3 linked regions of the Homo sapiens genome follow. The protein of the gene in region 1 purifies or fractionates together with the protein of each later gene. This does not show direct contact. Each region holds a gene or a part of one and is shown on either strand. Other genes may lie near its edges.

Region 1 (4,229 bases):
ATCACGTAGCCATCTCCTATATACAGGGCCCAGTGCTCATAGCCAAGGCGGAAAATCTCAATCAGGTCTCCAGGTTTGGGCTCTTGGTGTGGCTGCAACAGAAAAGCCAGAGATGGAGTACCCGGCCTTCTAGGCAACAGCAGAGACCCTGGCTGGGGGAGCTGCAGCTCATCCTGGAGACGCCTTGCTGATGTTCATCAGCTGCTAGCCCCATGAGATCCTCAGCCCTGCTGTCACTTTCAGAGGCTCTTCTCAGTGGGGGCACTGGGGGCTGGAAGCCTGGAGAATGATCTTGTGGGATGGGAGACAGAAGGACCGTCTGGGCGCATGTGTGACATGTGTGTGCTGTGTGTGTGCATGCTGAGGATGCAGATGTGTGTGCATGTGTGCATTGTACACATGCTCCTCAGTAGGCCGACTCAAGAGCCTGCATGAACCAGCACCTTCACTGAGGCCAGGAGCAAGGCTGGGAAGGTGAGTCTTGAGCTCTCCGCCCTCTGCAGACTGACCCTCAGTTCCTCATCACTCCTGCCCTGTGCCTCTCCATGGCCCCAAGAGCCACCTCCTCCTCAGACCTTGCCCCATCCAGCCTCAGGACACCTATCTCTTGGAGATGACACCCTGGGAGACAGGAGCTCACAGCATCCTGCTGGGACCTGAGTGGGGTCTTGTGGGGCCCCCCAGCTCCCAGCACTGAGGGGGCTCTGCACTCACAGAACAGGCCTCTGTGGGAACTTGTCCTACAATAACTGCACCATCTCCACAGCCCCAGGGGAAGGCATGATCATCCCATTGCACAGATGGGGAAACTGAGGATCAGAGAGGTGGCAGGGCTTTCCTGAGAACACTCAGCTGGAAGGAGGCCGAGCTGGTTCTTCCCTGCACACCCCTCACCCTGGTTCCTGTCTTGGCCACCTTCTTCCCCTTCCTCACCTCCTTCCCACTTCTCCATGTCCTGCCCCAGGGCATAGCAGCCTCATGACTGGAGGATTTTTCCATTTTCACCCTCTCTGTCCCTGTCCTCAGTGGGTGACAGCCTCCTCCTCCCTCATCCCAGGATGTCCCATCATAGACCTGGGGTCTGCTCTCCTTTGCCCTCTTCCTCATGCCAATATCCAGTCACTAAAACCAATCAATGTGGACTCCGGAAGCTTCTCCTTGTTGGTGTGCTTGTCAATATCCCATCCACTGACTTGGTTCAGGCAGCCCCATGCCTGCCTCTGTGACCCCCACAACCCCCTGACCAGCCCCTGCCTCCTGTCCCTGCCACTCCATATCCAACTCCTCAGAACCCATGGTGGCCTTCCCAAGGGCACATCTGGCCATGACCGTCCTCTGACCTCAGGGCCCAGGACACACCCTGTGGGCAGCTCCCAGGCCCTTCCTGACTGGCCCTTCCTCACCCTCCTCTCCCTCCCTGGGCTCTGCACCCACAGGCCCACTGAGTGACATCCCAGCCCCTCACTACTGCCCTGGCTCTGGTCTCTGCTGCTCTGCACATCTGGTTCTCCCTGCCTCCATCACTTCCCTGCAGCCACTCTTCCTCTTCCCCTCCCTCAAACCCCCTCACCTGAGAAGCTGCCCTGATGGCCCCAGCCTGGCTCAGCTGACCCGCCACCCCACTCCTAGGACCTGGGTCCCCGGGGGCCTCTGCTGCTCTCTGCAGGGGTCAAGTTGAGCTGCAATTCCCTGTGCCTCCCTGTGCCCCTCTGGGCTGTGAGCTCCAGGCAGGCAGGATCCTGTGTGCTCCTCCCTCCCTGCACCTCCAGGACCCAGTGAAGGGCCTGGCGTAGAATGGGGCAAGGAAATAGACAAGGAAGAGGGAGGAGAAAGGAGCAGGGCCAGGACTCCCTCCCAGCTCCTCCTCTGTATGTCAGGGCACCACAGGAGATGGTTTCCATGTGGGGAGAGAGAGGGGCTTTTAACTGCAATGCTGAATGTCTAAAACCACAGTCAAGGTACTGGCAACCTCAGCTGGTGGCCAGTGAGATATGAGCTTTGGCCTGGGCTCCCTGTTAAAAGCCCTGATTTGTTTTGGCAGCAGTAAAGCCCTTCCCCAGGATCAGGTGGTGCTGTTGGAGTGGGCTGCCCTCCAGAATTTGCAGGACTCCTTCCCGGAATGGTTTTGTTTCTAGTAATAGCCTGAGCCCCGCTGTTCCTTTTTAGTCACACACCACCGAGCTCAGCCTGCTCTCCCTAGAGCTTCTGCCAATCGGTACATCTGGGCTGATAGGAGGAGAAATTTCAGTTTTCAGAAAGCTGCTGAGATTAGAATGCACCTTAGAAGGCTGGATGATGCCACAGAGGAACGAGGAGAGAGAAAGCATCGTTTGGGGCCGAGAAGGGACTGAGCCCCAGTCACAGCAGAAGCAGACGATGTTGGGATTTGCTTGCTTCCCACAACCCAGAGTCCCCCACCTGCCCACACTCTGGCTTCTCCTCAGGCTGAGGTAGATTTGACACCCGGCACCCCACAGCTCTCTACTACATGGGAGTCCCGGGCTCCCCGCACTGTGCCAGTTACGCAGAGGAGGTGGACTCTGCCCAGAGGACTCCCTGTCCAGCTGGGCAGATGCACTTTTAAAAGACAAATACAGTTTTCCATGACAGCCTTCTAAAGACGAGCTCTGGAGCTGTGTGCCCAAGGCCAGGAGCCTGGACTGAGGCCTTTCCTAGGGGGAGCTGCCCAACTGCTGTAGAGTCAGTAATGCAAAGCCCTGGGAAACTTACCGAAGCCATCTCGAAGCCAAGAGGAGGTCTGGTGCTCCTCTTGTTTGTGGATCAGCTTTTATGCTGAAGGAGAGAATTTCACTTTCACTTTCCTTTTGACACTGTTTCAACCTCACTTAAATACTAAACACTGTTTAAAAGAGACAACTGTTTAAAAAGGAGCTATTTCTCTAGATGGAAGGACTAATCATTTCTTACACAAGCCATGGACTCATTGGTGCTTTAAAGCCACCTTGGGAGCAGCCAGAGTCGAAGGGGAGCCCTGAATTTCTGCCCTTGCTTGAGAAATAAAGGTCTTTTCTTTTTTTTTCTTTTTTGTTTGTTTGTTTGTTTGTTTGTTTGTTTTTTTGAGACAGAGTTTCGCTCTTGTCACCCAGACTGGAGTGCAATGGTGCGATCTCGGCTCATTGCAACCTCTGCCTCCCGGGTTCAAGTGATTCTCCTGCCTCAGCCTCCCAGGTAGCTGGGATTACAGGCACCTGCTGCCATGCCTGGCTCATTTTTCCATATTTAGTAGAGACGGGGTTTCACCATGTTGGCCAGGATGGTCTCGATCTCTTGACCTTGTGATCTGCCTCCCCGTCGGTCTCCCAAAATGCTGGGATTACAGGTGTGAGCCACCGCACCTGGCCAAAATAAAGGTCTCTTCTAAAAAGAACCCTGGGCAGCTCTTCCTACTCCAGGAAGGGGAGGCATTCGGAGGCAGGGAGATGTCAATCCCCAGTGCACCCCATAGGACATTGTCTTGTAAAGACACCCAGAAAATATTGGGCCAGAAGTCTTGGGAGAAGGCCAGAGGGGGTGTTTCATTCCATGGGGATGCCCTGGAGGTGAGGGGTACCTTAGACCATGTGGAGCCTGGGAGCTCATGGCCCCATTAAAATGCATTTGGGTGCAAGAAGCAGAACTAAACTCAAAAGGGCTTCAACAGCCTGGACACCCATTGTCTCGGTAACAGAAAGGCAGGAAGAGGGTGACTCAGGTTGGGTTTAGTGGCTCACCAAGGTCACCAAGGACTCAGCAGGCTGTCTCCATTGCACTGGTCCTGGGTCTGCACTGTTGCCCTGCAGGGACTCCCATGGCTGTAGCAGCCTTGAGTGGCCCATTTTTACCTGGCTATGCCCAAAAGATGGAGGGAAAGATAATTCTCATTTGTCTTTTTTTCAGGGAGTTAAGTCTTTCCCACAGTTCCCCAGATGACCTGTTCCCTTCTCCATTGGCCAGAACTGGGCCATATTTTCACACCCAACCAGAGGCCTAGACAGGTGGATCACTTGAGCCCACGAGTTCAAGACCAGCCTGGCCAACATGGCGAGACCCCGTCTCTGCTAAAAATACAGAAAAAAAAATTAGCCGGGCATGGTGGCATGTGCCTGTACTCTCAGCTACTTGGGAGGCGGAGATGGGAGGATCGCCTGAACCCAGAAGTCAGGCTGCAGTCAGCTGAGATTGCTCCACTGCAGTCTAGCCTGGGCAACTGGAGTGAAACCATGTCTCAA
Region 2 (3,500 bases), on another chromosome or scaffold:
GGCAAGGATCATTGCAGGCACCTCTCAGGGTCAAAGTGAGGAGTCAGGTTAACCTCACAGAGGCCCCAGCATGGCCCCACTTTTTCTCCCTGGGTGGAAGCACTGTCCATGCTAGACAGCTTCAGGCCTGTAATGATAACCACTGGGTCCCTTTCCCTTGGGTCCTCCCAGGCCAAGACAGTGGAGGAGAAACGGAACTGGACTCACCACATCAAGAGGCTCATCCTAGAGAACCACCATGCCACCATTCCCCAGAAGGTGAGTTCCCCCAGCTCCTGACTGTGTGCAAGGAGAATGTGCTCCTCTGAGCCAGCTCTGCAAGGTCCATTGGGGGCTCACCTTCTGGATTTGGGCTCCAGTGGACAGTGAGTGTCAGTACAGCAGATGCCCCGGGCCTTGGTGCAGCACTGTGGGGTGTCCTCGTACAGCAACAGTGGGTCCTATGGGCAGGGAAGGCCGGCACATGGTAAGGTAATAACCAGGTGTGTTTCCTTCCCCTTCAGGCCAAGGAAGCCATCTTGGAAATGGATTCCTATTGTAAGTGTACCCTTTTCTGCCTGTTTTGTCCCTAATCGTGCACATTGCTAGGTCAGGCTGCATCCTGGGGAAGCTTTACCTGATAATTTTATTCCAGGAGCAGGGAGGGCGGGGGTCTCCTGTTAAGGGCTGGGGGGTGAACTACATGATTAAGGATGCTCTCCTGCTGAGCGGTGGGACTCTCAGTGCCTGAAGCTCCCAGCTGGAAGATGGAGGGAGCTCTGGAGGCTCCTGGCCCTGGAGCTGGGTGGGTATAGAGGTCTGGCTGGTTATGGACAGGGTCTAGGGTAGGCCAAGGCCAATTGGGAATCAAAAGCTTGATCGTCTCTCTCCTGGGTGCAGATCCCAATCGGTACCGCTGCAGCCCAGAGCGGCTGAAGAAGGCTTGGTCCTCCCAGGATGAGGTGTCCACCAATGTGCGCCAGGGGCGCCGGCAATCTGGTAAGAGAAGGGCTGTGGAGGCAGGAGGCCTCTCCCTCACACCCTTGCCCAGACTGGGGACCGTCTGCGGCAGTGTCCAGGGCTGTGGCTCTCACCTCTGCGGAAACCCTGGGAAAGGCTAGAGCGGGGCTGGACACACACCTGGGGCTCATCCTCTCCCTGTGCTGGTGCTCCCCACACCAGGTACCCCTGGGCCCTCGTTGCCTACCAGGTCTGGAGCCCACCTTTTTCTTACTTTTTTCTTTTCTTTTCTTTTCTTTTTCTTTTTTTTTTTTTTTTGAGAGATGGAGTCTTGCTCTGTTGCCCAGGCTGGAGTGCAGTGGCTCGATCTCGGCTCACTGCAACCTCTGCCTCCTGGGTTCAAGCGATTCTCCTGCCTCAGCTTGCCAAGTAGCTGGGACTACAAGCGTGCACCACCACACCCAACTAATTTTTGTATTTTTTAGTAGAGATGGGATTTCACTATATGTTGGCCAGGCTAGTTTCGAACTCCTGGCCTCAGGTGATCCGCCCGTCTCGGACTCCCAAAGTACTGGGATTATAGGTGTGAGCCACTGTACCCGTCCAGCCCACCTTTTTCAAGGCCCTAGGAATACTTGCTCGCTCCGGCCTTGGCACCCCTTCTTAGCCCCCTCCCTCCTTTGCCTCTCTGGAATACCAACACCAAGTCATTCAGGAGTGACACTTGGACATGGCGGATGGGCCCAGCCCAGTCCTGGAACAACCGAGCAGAAGCAGGACCCGGGGAAAACGAGTTCAGTGGCACCAAACCCAGACAGGAAATATTTATTTTGGGTCTCAGGAAAAGGTTCCATTTTCCTCCCTTGAGTTTTCTTCCATTCCTGGACTTGCTAGGGTGTTCTTGGATTATTGGAATGAATCGTCTATTTGAAAAGAGAAAACCTTGCTTTTATTCTAAACTCCGTGGTGATGGGTGTGTGTGTTTTCAAAATTGGTTTTTTCGTTGCTATTTAGTGCAAGGCCCAAGGACAGGTCTGGCTTAAGCCAGGTGTCTGCCAAACATATACCCAAGGTGGGAGTTGGGGTGAGAATTGTCTTTAAGACCCTGGGAGAGAAGGATTCTAAAGTGACTGAGAGTGGTGTCCTGGCTTGGGTCCCACAGATGTGTTGGGTTTTGATTGGTGATGACCTGTGGGTCCCCTGAATGTGTGTGTGGATTGACATGTGGGTGTTAGCCTTCGAGAAGGTGGAGCAGTGGCTTATAGAAGGCTTTTGTGGTTTTATGTTGTTGGTATTGCTCTGGGTGGATCTTGAGCCCTAGGCCACCTTGCTATGGTTGCAAAAGTTTTATGGTTTTTATAGTTAAAAGCTCCAAATAGGGGTGTTGCTTTCTTCTCTCTAGCCCTCTTTCTTTTCTCTTCTCTTCTCTTTTCTTTTCTTCTCCTGTAATTCTCTTCTTGTCCTCCTCAACTTGCCATACCTTAAAATTTGAAGCTTCTAGCACACTGATGTGTTCAGCAAGTGATAACGTTGGTGGTAGTGATAGTAGCTCTATCCTAGTGTTAGCATCGAAACTTTAGCTATGGATGTACAACTCTTTGAATATACTTAAAGCCGTTGAATTGTACACTCTAAATAGGTGAATTGTATTTGAATTATATTTCAATAAAGCTGTTACAAAAAGCCCCCAAACTTTAGGTGTCCAAGGCACTCAGGAAATGAGCCATTTTAAAGAGCTGAAGTTTCCACATGGCTGAGATTTTTAGCCTGTAAATACTAAGAGTTGGATTTTTTCAAAAAATATTTAAAAAATGTTTTAACAGTTATGAAATTCCCTCCCTCCCTCCCTCCCTTCCTTCCTTCCTTCTTTCCTTCCTTCCTTCCTTCCTTGTCTGTCACCCAGGCTGGAGTGCAGTGGCACCATCTCTACTCACTGCAACCTCTGCCTCCCGGGTTCAAGTGATTCTCCTGCCTCAGCCGCCCGAGTAGCTGGGATTACAGGCACGCGTCACCACGCCCAGCTAGTTTTTTTTTTGTATTTTTAGTAGAAACAGGGTTTCACCATGTTGGTCAGGCTGGTCTCGAACTCCTGACCTCAGGTGATCCACCCGCCTCGGCCTCACAGAGTGCTGGGATTACAGGCATGAGCCATCCCGCCTAGCTGAAATAGACATCTTTCTAAAGCATGTTTTGTACTCTTGAGCCTTTTAAAACAGAAGGTGCTGGCCACCGTTGAACCTTTCCTTTTCTGGAGTTAATGCTACAGCATCACTTAGGGTGTGTGAACTGCCAGATGCTTGAGGGGCCCCAGAGGCTGTGGGTTGCCATAGAGACAGCCTGTGTTTGGTGTGTCGTGCCCCTCTTCACGGTTCTTCTGTAACACTGAAGTATTTGTTTTCATTGGTCTAAGTATGCTTGTCTGTAGTAGCCCTTCTTCCCCTCCTGTCTGTTAGAAAGCGATCGTTCAGGCCAGGTGTGGTGGCTCACTCCTGTAATCCTAGCACCTTGGGAGGCTGAGGTGGGAGGATCACTTGAGTCCAGGAGTTCAAGACCAGCCTGGA
Region 3 (3,500 bases), on another chromosome or scaffold:
ATACTGTGGTAATGGCATAAAAACAGACATACAGACCGATGGAATACAATAGAGTACCCAGAAATAAACTCTCACATATATAGTTAAATGATTTTTGACGAAGGTGCCAAGACCATTCAATGGAGAAAGGACAGTTTTTTCAACAAATTGTACTGTGAAAACTGGATATCTATATGCAAAAGAATATGGCTGGACCCTTACCTAACATCATATACAAAAACTAACTCAAAATGGATCAAAGACCTAAATGTAAGACCTAAAATAATACAGCTGTTAGAAGAAAACATAGGGCAAAATTTATGACATTGGATTTGGCAATGATTTATTGTATATGTCACTAAAAGCACAGGCAACAAAAGAAAAAAGGAGACAAATTGGACTACATGAAATGTTTAAACATTTGTGCATCAAAAGACACGAACAATAGAGTAAAAAGGCAATCCACAAAAATGGAAGAAAATATTTGCAAGTCATACATCTGATAAGGCATTAATACTGAGAATATACAGAGAATTTCTAAAACTCAACAATAAAAACATATCACTGCCGCTTGTTTGGTTGGTAAAACAAACAAGCAAAAACCCACAAACAACTGAATTTTGAAATGGGCAAAGAACTTGAATAGCTATTTCTCCAAAGAAGATATACAAATCACCAATAAGCACATGAATAGACACTCAAGATCACTAATCACTAGGGAAATGCAAATCAAAACATACAGTGAGATACCACCTCACACTCATTAGGTTGGCTACTATCAAAAAAAAAAAAACCAAAATAACAAATGTTGATGGTGTGGGAAGATTGGAACCCTCTGCACTGTTGGTGGGAATGATATAGCCACTATGGAAGACAGAATGGTGGCTGCTCAAAATATTAAAAATAGGCCAGGCGCAATAGCTCATGGCTGTAATCCCAGCACTTTGGGAGGCCGAGGCGGGTGGATCACCTGAGGTCAAGAGTTCGAGATCATCCTGGCCAACCTGGTGAAACCCCATCTCTACTAAAAATACAAAAATTCACCAGGTGTGGTTGCAGGCACCTATAATCCCAGCTACTTGGGAGGCTGAAGCAAGAAAATCTCTTGAACCCAGGAGATGGAGGTTGCAGTGAGCCAAGATCATGCCACTGCATTCAAGCCTGGGCGACAGGGCCAGACTCCATCTCAAAAAAAAAAAAAAAAAATATATATATATATATATATATATATATATATATGTACATATATGTAATTAGAATTACCATATGATTTAGCAATTCCACTTCCGGATATATAAGAATTGAAAACAGGATCTCAAAGAGATTCATAAACTCATGCCCATAGCAGTATTATTCCCACTAGCTAAAACATGGAAGCAACCCAAGTATCTGCAGACAAATGAATGAATAAGCAAAAAGTGGCATATACATACAATAGAATACTACTCAGCCTTAAAAAGGAAGGGAACTCTGACACATGCTACAACATAAATAACCCTTGAAGACATTATGCTAAGTGAAATAAGCCAGTCACAAAAAGACAGATACTGTATGATTCAACTTATATGAGGTATTTAGAGTAGTCAAAATCAGAGACAGAAATTAGAATGATGGTTGCCAGAGGCTGGGGGAAGAGGAAATGGAGAATTTTAATGTCCTCCTAGAATTCCACTTTTGCGAGTTGAAAAGAGTTATGGTACCCTGAAGAACCAGTCATGTTAATTTAAAATTTTTTAAAGTTATGGAAATGATGGTAGTGATGGTTTCAAAACATTGTGAATGTATTTCATATCACCAAACTGTATACTTAAAAATGGTTTAGGGCCAGAGAGAAGTGGGGGAAAGCCAGAAGACTTAAGGGTGGAGAGGGCAGAGCAAGATAGCCAAATAGAAGGCTCCATTGATCATCCCTCCCACAAGAACACCAAATTTAACAACTACACAAAAAAGCACCTTCATAAGAACCAAAAATCAGGGGTACTTACAGTACCTGGTTTTAACTTTATATTACTGAAACAGGCACTGAAGAGGGTAGGAGAAACAGTCTTGAATTGCCAATGCAACCCATATCCCATGTGTCAGGGGCCACATGCACAGAGAATCTGTGCACTCAGGAAAGGGAGAGCATGGTGATAAAGAGAATAGAAAGACTTTGCCTTGTCGCTTCACAAAGCAAAACTGGGCTGAATTCAGCTGACGCCTACCCACAGAGGGAGCATTTAGATCAGTCCTAGCCAGAGAGGAATCAAATCACCCACCCCAGTTATTGGAACCTGAGTTCTGGCAAGCCTCTCCACTGTGGGCTGAAGTGCTCTGGGGCTCTAAATAAACTTGAAAGGCAGTCTAGGCCACAAGGACTGCAACTCCTAGGCAAGTCCTAGTGCTGAGATGGGTCTCTGGACCGGCCCCGAGCCTGGGTGAATGTGCCACCATGAAGGGAAGGACACAAGCCTGGCTGGCTTTGCCATCTGCTGATTATAGAGCCCTAGGTCCTTGAGTCAATATAGGTGGTAGCCAGATAGTGGTTAACAAGGGGCTTGGGTAAGGCACAGTGCTGTGTTGGCTTTAGGTCTGACCCTGTGCAGTTCTAGTGGTCATGGCCACAAGGTGCTTCTGTCACCCCACCTCCAGCTCCAGGCAGCTCAGCACACAGACAGACTGTTTTGGAGAACGTATGAGAAGAGAACAAGAATCTCTGCCTGGTAATCCAGATAATTCTTCTGGATCTTATACAAGACCACCAAGGTGGTACCTCTAGTAGTCTGCAAGAGTCACAGCTTTACTGGGCTTGGGGTGCCCCCTAATGCAGATACGGCTTAGATCACAACGCCCAAGTCCTTTCAAATTCCTGGAAAGCCTTCCCAAGAAGGACAGGTACAAACAAGCCCAGACTGTGAAGACTACAATAAATAACTAACTCTTCAATGCCCAGGCACTGACAAACATCCACGAGCATCAAGACCATTCAGGAAAACATGACCCCACCAAACTAACTAAATAAGTCACCAAGAGCCAATTCAGGAGAAACAGAAATATGTGACCTTTCAGACAGAGAATTCAAAATAGCTGATTTAAGAAAACTCGGAGACATTCAAGATAACAGAGAAGGAATTCAGAATTCTATCAGGTAAATTTAACAAAATGATTGAAATAATTAAAAATCGGTTAAGAGTCATCACCACGCTCTCCCTCTCCCTCTCCCTCTCCCTCCACGGTCTCCCTCTGATGCTGAGCCAAAGCTGGACGGTACTGCTGCCATCTCGGCTCACTGCAACCTCCCTGCCTGATTCTCCTGCCTCAGCCTGTCGAGTGCCTGCGATTGCAGGCGCGCGCCGCCACGCCTGACTGGTTTTCGTTTTTTTTTGGTGGAGACGGGGTTTCGCTGTGTTGGCCGGGCTGGTCTCCAGCTCCTAACCGCGAGTGATCCGCCAGCCTCGGCCTCCCGAGGTGCCGGGATTGCAGATGGAGTCTCGTTCACTCAGTGCTCAATGGTGCCCAGGCTGGAGTGCAGTGGCGTGATC

The links.
Region 2: the proteins of PLAAT4 (region 1) and PLEKHG3 purify together in Homo sapiens (affinity purification with mass spectrometry; one large-scale study listed by BioGRID and IntAct). This does not show direct contact.
Region 3: the proteins of PLAAT4 (region 1) and RNF135 purify together in Homo sapiens (affinity purification with western blotting, with the first as the bait; one study listed by BioGRID). This does not show direct contact.

What each region holds. Positions count from the first base shown.
Region 1 is NC_000011.10:63,535,379-63,539,607, reverse strand, and holds the start of PLAAT4 (phospholipase A and acyltransferase 4), read right to left. Parts: upstream 2,801-4,229; 5' UTR 2,740-2,800; coding exon 2,731-2,739; intron 93-2,730; coding exon 1-92. UniProt on the Homo sapiens protein: Exhibits both phospholipase A1/2 and acyltransferase activities. Shows phospholipase A1 (PLA1) and A2 (PLA2), catalyzing the calcium-independent release of fatty acids from the sn-1 or sn-2 position of glycerophospholipids.
Region 2 is NC_000014.9:64,731,924-64,735,423, forward strand, and holds part of PLEKHG3 (pleckstrin homology domain-containing family G member 3), read left to right. Parts: intron 1-171; coding exon 172-258; intron 259-503; coding exon 504-537; intron 538-879; coding exon 880-978; intron 979-3,500. UniProt on the Homo sapiens protein: Plays a role in controlling cell polarity and cell motility by selectively binding newly polymerized actin and activating RAC1 and CDC42 to enhance local actin polymerization.
Region 3 is NC_000017.11:30,981,039-30,984,538, reverse strand, and holds part of RNF135 (E3 ubiquitin-protein ligase RNF135), read right to left. Parts: intron 1-3,500.